Linked DNA regions of Homo sapiens. The protein of the gene in region 1 interacts with the protein of each later gene in a pairwise test. Each region holds a gene or a part of one and is shown on either strand. Other genes may lie near its edges. The genes, in order: SORBS3, CCNL1 and SAFB2.

Evidence for each region.
Region 2: the proteins of SORBS3 (region 1) and CCNL1 interact in binary tests that used the Homo sapiens proteins (3 or more experiments, as listed by UniProt).
Region 3: the proteins of SORBS3 (region 1) and SAFB2 interact in binary tests that used the Homo sapiens proteins (3 or more experiments, as listed by UniProt).

What each region holds. Positions count from the first base shown.
Region 1 is NC_000008.11:22,549,821-22,553,564, reverse strand, and holds the start of SORBS3 (vinexin), read right to left. Parts: upstream 1,639-3,744; 5' UTR 1,543-1,638; intron 1,404-1,542; exon of another isoform or gene 1-1,403. UniProt on the Homo sapiens protein: Vinexin alpha isoform promotes up-regulation of actin stress fiber formation. Vinexin beta isoform plays a role in cell spreading and enhances the activation of JNK/SAPK in response to EGF stimulation by using its third SH3 domain.
Region 2 is NC_000003.12:157,158,698-157,162,441, forward strand, and holds the start of CCNL1 (cyclin-L1), read right to left. Parts: upstream 1,451-3,744; 5' UTR 1,398-1,450; coding exon 1,095-1,397; intron 783-1,094; coding exon 708-782; intron 279-707; coding exon 169-278; intron 1-168. UniProt on the Homo sapiens protein: Involved in pre-mRNA splicing. Functions in association with cyclin-dependent kinases (CDKs). Inhibited by the CDK-specific inhibitor CDKN1A/p21. May play a role in the regulation of RNA polymerase II (pol II).
Region 3 is NC_000019.10:5,588,038-5,591,781, reverse strand, and holds part of SAFB2 (scaffold attachment factor B2), read left to right. Parts: coding exon 1-34; intron 35-1,373; coding exon 1,374-1,504; intron 1,505-3,744. UniProt on the Homo sapiens protein: Binds to scaffold/matrix attachment region (S/MAR) DNA. Can function as an estrogen receptor corepressor and can also inhibit cell proliferation.

The DNA.
Region 1 (3,744 bases):
AAGGGAGCCCTAGGCACCCAGGGAATGGAGGGGCAAGAGGGGAGCCCAGAGTGGGGGTGCAAGAGGACAAAAAGGGGCTCCCAGTTTGGGGTGTCCAAGGGGGCTTTTTGACCCAGAGCACGGTGCTACGGCGTCCATCCCTCCGCGTCTTGGCTGCTGGACTGGACCAGAAACAGCCAAGCTCTGCCACTGCCCAGGACTGGATGGAATCAGGTTTGCCTGTGCCTGTGGGGTCCTTGGGGGCTCTCAGGGAGGGCTGCAAATGCATCGGGAGGAGCTGTGTGTATGTGTGTGTTGGAATCTGGGTGCAGAGCTGCGAATATGACTTCTGGGGGGACCACCGGAGGGACCACATGAGCTGCATGGGGGTTGTGGGTACAGAGGGGTGTCAGCTGAACAGTGGTGGGAGGTGCAGTCATGTGAGCAGTGGAAGAGTTGGGGGCCCAGAGGGGATGAAGGTAGAATAAGGCTGGGATGACTCAGCCCCTGGACCCAGCTCCTGCCCAGGGCTAGCGAGGGTGTAGCCAAGGCTGGGGGCAGCTCCTTGTCTCTGGTTTGAGTTTGTGGGGACTCCTGACATTTGAGTTGCTGCGACACAGCTCTTCTGTGCCCATGCCTGACTGGGGGGAGTGGAGGGCTGAGGCTGGAGGAGGAGCAGCTCCCCAGCTGGGTCCAATTAGGACTCCCACCAAAGCAAAACAGGCAGACACACCCCAGTCCCCACACTCCACCTCCCCTTGCGGGGGGGAGTTGAGGCAGGGTGGGGTGGAAGGTCAGGAGACCTGGAGCTGGTCGGCTCCTCGCAGCACCCCTCCCTGCCCAGCTGACTGCTTCGGGCCAAATTGCAGCTCAGCAGCTGCCGCCTGGGCCATCAGCTGACAGCGCCTTCCTTCCCTGACCTCCCCGCCCACCTCGTGCTCGGTGAGAACTGCTCTCTTGGAGGATGGGTAGGGCAGGAGGTCCCCCACGACCCGTAGTCAGAGGTTGCTTACCCTTGGTGCCCCCATCTGCCCCTTCTCAACCCTGCCCCTTGTGTCGCCCCCCACCACAGGAACCTCCAGGGAAGGGTGGTCCGAGTCCTTCTCTTGGCAGCCAGGTCAGGAGACTTAGGGAGGACTTACAAGGAAGAGGGCAGCATCTGGGGACTGGTCCCCCATGTAGCAGAGAGCGGAGGGGTCCTCCCAGAATTCAGACCTCCCCTCCAGGCAGGCAGCCAGCCCCGGGAGCGGGGAGAGGCCCCTGGAGCGGGAGAGGGGAGGCGGCTCTGCTGGGGTGGGCACTGGCCTCCCTGCTCTGAACACTGCCCTGACCTTGGGTGCCTGGCCCTAAGAGCTTTCCCAGGTATTTCTCAGCGACAAGGCCACGTGGACAAGGACAGCTTTTCTTGAATTTCGCTTTTTCTGGTATGAGGGCTGGTGGGAGGTACTTCCCAGAGTTTGGGACGCGGACCCCGGGGAGGGGCTAGGTGCGATTCCCTGGGGTTGGGCACGGATCCCTCCCGCCGGCCTCGCCTACTCCCCGCCCCTCCTTGCCCGGACCTACCTTCCCCGGCGAGCAGGTGGCTGGGCCCGAGGCCGCCCGGGAGCGCAGGAGCATCCCTGCCCGGCTGCTGCCTGGCGCGGGCGCTCGAGGAGGAAGGGCAAGGAGAAGCGCGGGCCGTCGCGGCCCTCGTGACCGGGTCAGGACGGGCCGGGCCGGGCCGGGCGCCGGCGCAGGAAGAGGGAGGCCGAAGGGGCGCGCGCCGGAGGCCGGACCGTGAGAGTCGCGCGGCGGGGCGGGCGGAGTTTGGGTCTCGGATCTGGACTGCGGGCCGGGGCTGGGCCGGAGAGGAGGGACGTGCGAGTGCTCTCCGTCCGTCGGGGCGCGCGCGGGGACACTGGTGGCCCCCTGCCGAGGAGGCCTGGCCGGCGGGGAGGCGGCGCCGGGAGGGGCCGCCGAGGGTCCCCGGGGAGCCCTCTCTGGTTTCCCAGCTGCCATCCCGGCCCCTACCGCAGGGCTGGCGTCGGGGAGGGGTCGGGCGGCCCGACACGGGCCACTCAGAGTTTCCAGCGACATTTCCAGAGTGTGGGAAGCGAGCGGCCTCGCAGCGGAGCCAGGACAGGGGCAGGAGCGATGAACCGGGCGGAGCCAGGACAAGGGGGCAGGAGTGGTGAACTGGGCAAGCCGGGAGAGACGGACAGGCCGGGAGCGAGATGAGGGCGCCCCGCAGGCAGAGTGGCGGAGCGGACCAGGGGAAGGCCCCGCCGCCCCTCCGCGCTGGGGGAGAGGGTGTGCCTGCGGCGGCGCGCGGCCGGTCGTGTGCAAACAAACACGCGCGCGTACACTGCAAACGTGGGGACGCTCACACACGTGCAAGCACAGGGAGGAAATCAGCCCAAGGGAGCGGCCCCCCCGGGCGTGCCGCGCCCCTAAAGAGGATAAGGGTGGGGTCCCTTTGGCGGGGATGGGATTAGGAGGGTCTTGGTGTTCCCAGACACTGTGTTTGTTTTGATCTGCCTGCTTTTCCGCTGTTCTCGCTGCTCTGAGCTGGGTCCCCAGAGCCCCGGCCCTTCCGGCTCCCCATCCATTCTGGTCATCCCCTCTCCCTGTCTCTGCCCCAAGCCTCTGTATGGCACTTCAGAAAGTGGGAATGCTTAAGGAACATTGAAGGACCGTGGAAACACTCTGGAATCCTTTCTGGCCCTTGAGTTGGCTCAGGGATCCCCAAGCCCCAAACCAGCCAACCAACCAACAGTTACTGATCAACTTTAGCTACGAGCTGGGAGTGATCAATGCTAAATTATGAAAACTAACGTAATCTCCTGCATTCCTACTGGGTGTCAGACTGGTGCCAGAGGCCACGAGGAGTTTTGGAGTGTTTTCCAAGCTCACCACTCAACTCAAAGTTTGGAAAGAAAGAGAGTAGAGAAAAGACTAAGTGATTTTCAGTCCCTACCACCATTACTGCTTTAGTCTTATCTTCTCCCTCGTTCTGGTAAAGAAGCTCTCCCCGTTGCCTTGAAACATCACATGTGAAAGCTGGAGGAGATGTTTGGGTTGAGAAGCTTCAGATAGGCCTGCTGGCCTCTAGCGCCTGCGGGGCTGCCATGTGGACACACAGCTGCACCAGCAGCAGTGGGACCACTGGGGGACACGTCATAGGGAAGCAGGTCCAAGGCTTCCCAGGACAAATTTTTACATGATTCCAGGGGTTCTGAGTCTGCCAGTTGTGGGGCATCTATGTAAAGGCAACTGTTGCACTGAGCGGGGAGCTGAACAAGATGACCTTGAAGACTCCTTCCAAGAACCTCTGACTCTCCAGGAAGGCGGAGAGATGGGGATGGCAGGGGCATTGCTGTGGAGGACAGCTGAGCAGTGGGGGAACCCTGGGACACTTCTTGAGGGACGCAGCAGTGCACTGCCCCCCAACCTGAAGCTTAGAAACCTTCTTATCCACGCCAGGTAGCCTCTTCCCTCCCTCAGGGATAAAATAGGTGCCCATTTTCTTAGACACGCATTTTTCCCACCTGTCAGGGTCCTTGGGACTAAGAAGGACCACATCGCTTTCACTTTCTTCCTTCTTCTCCCAAGATGGTGAAGCTGAAGCTCTTCCGACTCCAGGAATCCTGGCCATACCCCCTCACCAGCAGCAAGCTTCTCTTATTCTCTAGGGCTCTGACCTGGACTCCAAGATAAATATTTAGTGTAGAGGGTGCAGCAGAGCTGACAAAGTTCCCCACTTCCTGTTTCTCACAAAGGGAGGTG
Region 2 (3,744 bases), on another chromosome or scaffold:
TTCAAATTATTTTAAGTATCAGTGTTCCTATATGAACTTTAACACCTAAATTAAAGTCCGTTTTCTTTTGCATCCGTATTCACTTGAAAGGAAAGATGTTTTGATTTGATGACTGGTGCACGGTACAGCAGTAGCAAGAGATACTATGTTCAATAATGCCAATCTTACCTTTTTCCTCTTAACTGGCGGAGGTGGTGGAATACATTAATCACATCTCTTATTCTTCTAGGTGCTTCTTCGATTTTTGATGCAAGATTAATACAAGCCATAGCAACAATCTGAAAGAACCCATGAGCCACAAAAGCCATTGTTAGATTAAACTCACTTTGAAGAATAAAATTTAGAACACAATTGGGACAACCTTTAGTAAAATTAGAGAAGACATCTCTATGCCGTAAGTCTACCAGCTATGCTAGTACTATACTTTTTGTTGTTTAACTCATCTTAATTTTGGTTCCAGAGTCAAACTCAATCTTACAGGAGTTCTGCATTTGGTTGAAAACTGTACTTTTCGTTAAGAGGGCACTTAGGCTCGTGATCGATTTTGAACCACATTCTAAAGGTTTCCACTTCCTGGCGAGTGAGAAGTAGGTACAAAGGCCTAAACTAAACCACTCCCTTTCTGGAAAAGCTGGCTGCTGACACTACCCCTACTCTGCCCATTTCCGGATGAAGAAATCCCTTTTACCCGCCTCCGCTGTGCTTACCTCGAAACTGTGTTTGACGAAAGATTTGGAGTAGAAAAAACGATGAAACAACACCTGCCCCGTTGCCATCGCCACCTGCAGACAAGAGAGGAGAACGGAAGCGCAGGGGTCAGGCGGGCCCGCTCCAGGCGCCGCCGCCATTTTGTGCCGCCGATCGCTTCCCTTTCCCCTCCCGCCGCCGCCGCCGCTGCGAACAGCCCGCTGCCAAGTCCTCCCTCCGCCTCCGCAGCCCCCCGCCCCGGCACGCCCCGGCCGCGGCTGGGCCCCGAACGGGAAAGCCTGAAGGAACCGTCCCCACCCTCCCGGGGCACGGTGATACTGAGATGCGGCGTAGGGGACGGAGGAGAGGAGAGGAGCGCCCGGCCGGCCCGGGGCCGGAGCACTGACCTGCGGCAGCCGGAGGAGAATGCCGGCGGCCTGGATGAGCTCGCAGCCCAGGATGCGTAAGTCCGTCTCACTGGGCAGGTCGAGCCCATCCTGCATGGATGGGGTGGGCGAGAGCCTCTCCTCCGGAATCAGAGAGTGGTCGATGGTAAGTGAAACTTCCGAGTACAGGCGATCGCCGATCAGGATCCCTCCCGTCGTGGTCGTCGTCGTGGTCGTCGTCCCGGAGCTGGAGCCGCCCGCGCTTGGGGCGGCCGATGAGGCGGCTGCGGCAGCAGTAGCTGTCGAATGAGGCCCGGACGCCATAGTCTTAGCGAGCCGCACGCAAGCCCAACGCAGCCGGAACCCGAAACAAGACTAACCAGCGTTCTCGGCGCGACGGATATTCCCGTGACCGCCGGGTTCTGGGCCGCTTCACGCCGCGTGCGCTTCCGCCCTGACGTCACCACGCCGGGCAGCCGCGCGCCAACTAGTCCCTCCAGGCCGCGCCTCCGCCCTCGGCATCTGGGCCTGCGAGGGGAGTGTTGGGTGCTGCGACAGACCTTGGGATCCTCAGAGGCTGAGGAGGCCTTCTCTAGCCAAGGCCGGTCGAAACCACCTTGTTTGTGATAGCCACACGAATAACGGAGCTTTACAAGATCCCTTATACCCAAAATAGAGGTGGCAGCATTGGCTAGCATCTCTGCGCCCCTTCGCCCTGCATTCCGGCCTCTTCCTTTAGCCTCGGCGCGGCTTGCGTTCCGCGTGTACCAAGGGAAGTGGCGGCCGACCTGAGCGCGCTTTGGCGGGTGGAAGTGGTGACTTTGTTGTCCTGTGTGGACGAATGTGTAATATAAAGTGACCCTCAAGGAATCTGGAGAGGGCTGCTTTACAGTATTTGAAGAACACAGGGCTGTGGACCCTATCGGTTCCCAAATGAAAGCTCCCCGGGGAGCGTGTTTTTGCCAGTATGGGGAAGTAGGGCGGAGGCATAGGAATGACCGCGAGAGTGGCTGCTTTCATAGCTCCGCTTGCGAAACTCCTGCCCGGCCTTTGACACCGCCACGGCTTTCAGTAATCTGGAAAATCCCTAGTTTCCAAAAATAGTCTTAGGGCGAGGACTTGACAGAGGTAATTTGATTATGCCTGGGAGTCTCTATTCATACATGGTTACCTACCGCGGGTAGGGTGAGGTCAACCTCGTGTTTTTTGTTTTTTTTCCTGTGATATTAGCTAGCAATTTCCAGCGTTTCCTGAACCTTGAAGTAAAAACAATGATACTGATCTAAACTACTAGAATCTAGGTTGGAAGGAAAGGAATGCATCACGTTTTACTCTTGACGCTCAGAAAGCGATACCCCAAAGACAGAGGCTTTAGAAGCTGCCTCATAATGCAGGTCCCCCAACCTTGACTTGTTGCTCCCACTTTTCCCAAGTGCAGGGAGGTACTCTCTGAAATTTCCTTTCCTGACTAGAGAAGCCTCTTTGTAGAAGAATCAATCGCATTCCTCCCCTCGCTGAAATCTCGTATCCTATTTCAAAAAGACTCAGAAATGCAGCCATTCCTGGAGGGACTTTTTCACAAGATTACTCAAAAGAAAATTATTTACTAATTTCTGTCCATTCATTGTTCCTAATAATCATTTGCTGCTCCTCAAAATAAATGTCTACATTTCTCATCTACCCTTTCCCCTATGAAAAAAAGATATAAAATCTTCTGTACTCCATTAAGCTACTGGGTAATCATCCTCCTGCTTTTACCCCGGTGTTATGTATCCCTTTTCTCCTGTTAATCGCCTGTTATCAGTTGATTTTTTTTTTCTTTTTTTTTAGATAGAGTCTCACTCTGTCGCCCAAGCTGAAGTGCAGTGGCGCGATCTCGGCTCACTGCAGCCTCCGCCTCCGGGGTTCAAGCGATTCTCCCACCTCAGCCTCCCCAGTAGCTGGGATTACAGGCACACACCACCACGTCCAGCTAATTTTTGTATTTTTGTAGAGACGGGGTTTTGCCATGTTGGCTAGGCTGGTCTTGAACTCCTGACCTCAGGTGATCCGCCCGCCTCGGCCTCCCAAAATGCTGGGATTACAGGCATCCAAAGCGCTGGAATTACAGGCATGAGCCACCGCACCCGGCCTTATCAGTTGATTAAGTGAACCTTCAGTGGGCAAAGTTGTTTTAAAATGTACTGATACTTGAGCCTTGCCTGCAGAGGTTGATGTCACTGATTTAAGGTGGGCCCAGCCAGTGGTTCAGTTTTGCCTGTCTTCGAGTGATTGGAATGTACAGCCAAGAGAGTGTAATTATGGTGCTGGCAGAAGTATTAACCTATCTGGATGTCACTGTCTTCACTTTCTGACTAGGCTGCTTCCAGGGAATCTTTCCACCTCAATATTTATGAGATATCTATAATTTTATAACAAACTTTTAAAGGAGCCTCGGTTTCCTTAAACACAATTGATGACACCAGTTTTCTGGTTTTCTTCCATTTTTGTTTATAGAGCCAGGGTCTCACTGTGTTGCCCAGGCTGGCCTTGAACTCCTGAACTCAAGGGATCTTCCCACCTCAGCCACCTGAGTAGCTGGGACTATAAGTGGCACACCACTGTGCCTGGTCAGTTTTCTGGTTTTGATAATCTATGGTTGTGTGAGATATTATCATTGGGGAAAGTTGGA
Region 3 (3,744 bases), on another chromosome or scaffold:
GAGGCCAATGATGGGAGACCACCGGGATGGGCAGGTGAGTAGAGCCCCGATGCCAAGCCCTGGGGCCACTGTACTGCTGTGCAGGCATAGCGGACCATTTCTAGCCAGGCGGCCGCTTGATCCCAGAGAGGTGGCAACCAAGTCAGCACGTGTGGCGGGTATGCAAGTGTGGGTTCTGGCCAGCGACTAGAAGTACAAATATTTAGTCGGACGTGGTGGCTCATGCCTGTAATCCCAGCACTTTGGGAAGCTGAGGTGGGTGGATCACAAGGTCAGGAGTTCAAGACCAGCCTGGCCGACATGGTGAAACCCTGTCTCTACTAAAAATACAAAAAATTAGCCAGGCATGGTGGCGAGTGCCTGTAGTCCCAGCTACTCGGGAGGCTGAGGCAGGAGAATCGCTTGAACCCGGGAGGCGGAGGTTGCAGTGAGTCGAGGTCGCACCATTGCACTCCAGCCTGGGCAACAAGAGCAAGACTCCGTCTCAAAAAAAAAAAAAAAAAAAAAAAGCGCAAATATTTGATTGTTTTGTAATGCTCAAGTTTCTGTCATTTTCAAATATGTTGGGCTTGTTCTTCATTGTATCCGGTAGAAACCTCATGTGTCTCTTCATTGTCCACTTGCTCAGGGAGCCTTTGGGTCTTAGTGCCTGTGGGGTCCCCCAAGAACCCAAATGGTGGTTGTCGTTTAGCCCACATGTGCCAGGGTCGGGGGGATGGGGGAGCCCGGGCTTCCCCATGTTTCAAGTCCGTGCTTGGTGGGCACGGGGGGCTGAAGACCACAAGAATGGTCCCTGAGTCTCTGTGGTGCCATGCGGGTGCCCCGTGCGTGGTGGCAGGGTGTGAGTTCTGAGAAAGCAGCAGCCTGGTGGAGAGGTGGGAGGTGGGCGGCAGAGTAATGGCCTGTAACAGCAGGCAGCACCCGCCTGCTTCCTGGCTGCTGGCTGCTCCGTGCAGAGTTGGTTGGCCAGGGAGGCCGGAATTGTGGCCCTGCCAGAGCACAGGGGGGCTGACCCACCCGAGGGCCCTCCTGTTATCGGAAAGGAGGCGGCGCCCAACTTCTCAGGGAAGACAGGGTTTGGTGACGTCTTAGTGGATCTTGAGCAGAGCTGTTGAGGGCAGTAATGCCAGGGTGCCCTGGCTCCTGGGGCAGCTCAGGTGGGGCAGTGATGCAGCTGTAGGGGTGCGAGGAGGGGAGCCAGGGAGCAGAGGGTCAGTGAAGCAGGGCCCAGCAGGGCTGAGACTGCACCCTTCAGTCCTCTCTCAGCTCCGCCCCACCTGCCACCCTGGGGCCTGCAGTGGACAGGCCTTCCGGAAGGTGGGCCTATGTGGGTGACATGGTCAGTGTCACCCTGTTCCTCTCCTGCCTTCCAGCACTATGGAGATGACCGCCATGGCCACGGAGGACCCCCAGAGCGCCACGGCCGGGACTCCCGTGATGGCTGGGGGGGCTACGGCTCCGACAAGAGGCTGAGTGAAGGCCGGGGGCTGCCCCCTCCCCCCAGGTTAGTGGGTGAGCCCCAGCCGGGTGGGGAGCATCTGTCCTAACCTGGGAAAAGGTTGGTGCCTGGCCAGGCACGTCCCCAAGGTTTGATTCAGCTAGGGGAGCTTTAGGATGGGCTACCAGGGGTCCTGCCATTTGAAACCCCTGACTCAGAAAGTCCAGGTTCTCAAGAAGAAAGCATAGAACAGGCTTTCAGGGATGGAGCTGTCCAGGTCGCCCAGAATGGCCCATCCCCATTCTTGAGCTGGGGGTCGCCTGCAGTTGTGAATGTCTCGATCATGGGCTGCGTACACACTGGGAGAGACAGCGCTGAAGCTCTTAGTCCTGCCCCGTCCGTGGTAGAGCAGCCTCGCCCCTGCCTCCACGTTGCCTCTTGACACGTGTCTTCCTCGGGTTTTTTCTCTGACCCCCAGTTGGTCTGGGGTGGATCTTCTCAACCCTATCCTGCCTATTAGAATCACTTAGGAGGACCCTCCACCCAGGACTCAGGGCTGAGGACACTGGGCCAGGTCCTCCACAGGTGTCCAAAGCCACCTTCACCAGCACTGCAGTGGGGGTGCTGTTCTGAGCCTTGTCAGCATTGGTGGGGGGCAGGGCTTGTCTGGGAGGACTCTGGGTGCCTCTCTAGTTTCTTTGGCCAGCTGCAGTCACCCCTGCCTGTTTGTCCTGTTGCCGTCTGGGCTGGCCGTGAGGAGGCTGGTGGCAGGACTGCTTTGCGGCTGCTGCCCTGCTTTCCTCTGTGAGCCGAGTGTCCTGTCTTGTCTCCAGCCCTGGCCCAGGGCTGCCTCGGACCCTGCCCAGCGCCACAGGGTGGGTTTTGGCCCCCTGTGCTCCCCCGTTCCATCCCTCCCTCCGCGCTGAGAGGCACTTCCAGCTCTGCCAGGGACTTTGACTCGGTGCTGTGCCGAGTGTCCCAGGACACCCGAAGCTTCTCCTGAATCTCTGGGCAGCACAGACGGTGGCAGTGCTCTGATCAGTTGGTGTGAAGTGTTCTCTCCTGTGAGACTTCATTAGCATTCCTGTCCTGTCGCTTGCTGGGTGTTATGGTAAATACCTCGGGAGTGTAAACGGGAAACTCACCCATGGTGAGCAGCGGCTGGGCGCCATCGGGTCACCGAGGGCAGGTTCCACACGGGAGCTTTCCGCTCCCTCCAGGGCGGTATTGCACTTGCCTGGCAGTGCGCGCTGGGGGCTCTGGTGGCCCCTCTCGGGCCTGTGGGCTGGCTCACTTGGCCTGACTGTCACTGCATCCGGCAACCCACAGCAGGCAGGCACTCGTGCAGATGGGTCTGGCTGCTTTCCTGCACGGCCACTGTGACTGCTTGGCCACTTGGGACTCAGGACACTGGACTCGGATTTTCATCTCCCAGAGTTTGTCTGAAACTTTAAACAAATAGCTTTCTTTAAGTATAGTTCACACGACACACACTTCCCGTTTCACGTGTGCAGTCAGTGGAGGTTTGCGTGTACGTGGATCTGTTTAGCCATCCCCACGGCTGATTCTGAAGCATTTTCATCACGTCAAAAGAAACCCTGCCCCTTTTAGCAGCTGCACCCTCCCCCCTGCCCTTGGTAGCCACAGGTCCCTTTCTGGCTCTGGATTTGCCGTCTTGAGTCATTTCTTGGCCTGCGCGGTGTGCCTGCTGGGCCTGGCTTCTCCCTAAGCCTTGGGTATTCAGGGCTCATCTCCACATGCTGCCTGGGCCAGCGCTTCCTTCCTAGTTAGGGCTGAACATTCCATGGTCCAGACACACTACATAGTGTTATCTGCTCATCAGTTCATGGGTGTTGGGGTCCTTCTCCCTTTGGCTGTTAGGAATCCTGCCGCTAGGAACATTCATGCACAGATGTCTTTGGCCATGTTTTCATTTCTGGCAGGTAGGAATGGGTTTGCTGGGTCATGGTAATTCTGCGCTTAACTTTTTGAAGAACCACCAAACTTTTCCACAGTGGCCACACCATTTTACATTTCCACCAGCAGTGGACAAGGGTTCTTCCCTTTCCTCGCACCCTCCACGGTGTGTGTTATTGTGTGATTCTAGCATCCCAGCCAGGGGGAGGTAGCATCTCGGTGTGGCTCGGATTGGCATTTCTGGGTGGCGTTGAGCACCTTCTCACGTGCTTACTAGCACATCTGTCTTTGGGGAAATGTCCCTTCCCTTGATTTGCCCACTTGACATGCAGCCCTTGTTGTGTGGCATGACCCACCATGCAGCTGAGGTCAGGGTGGGTGCGCCTGCT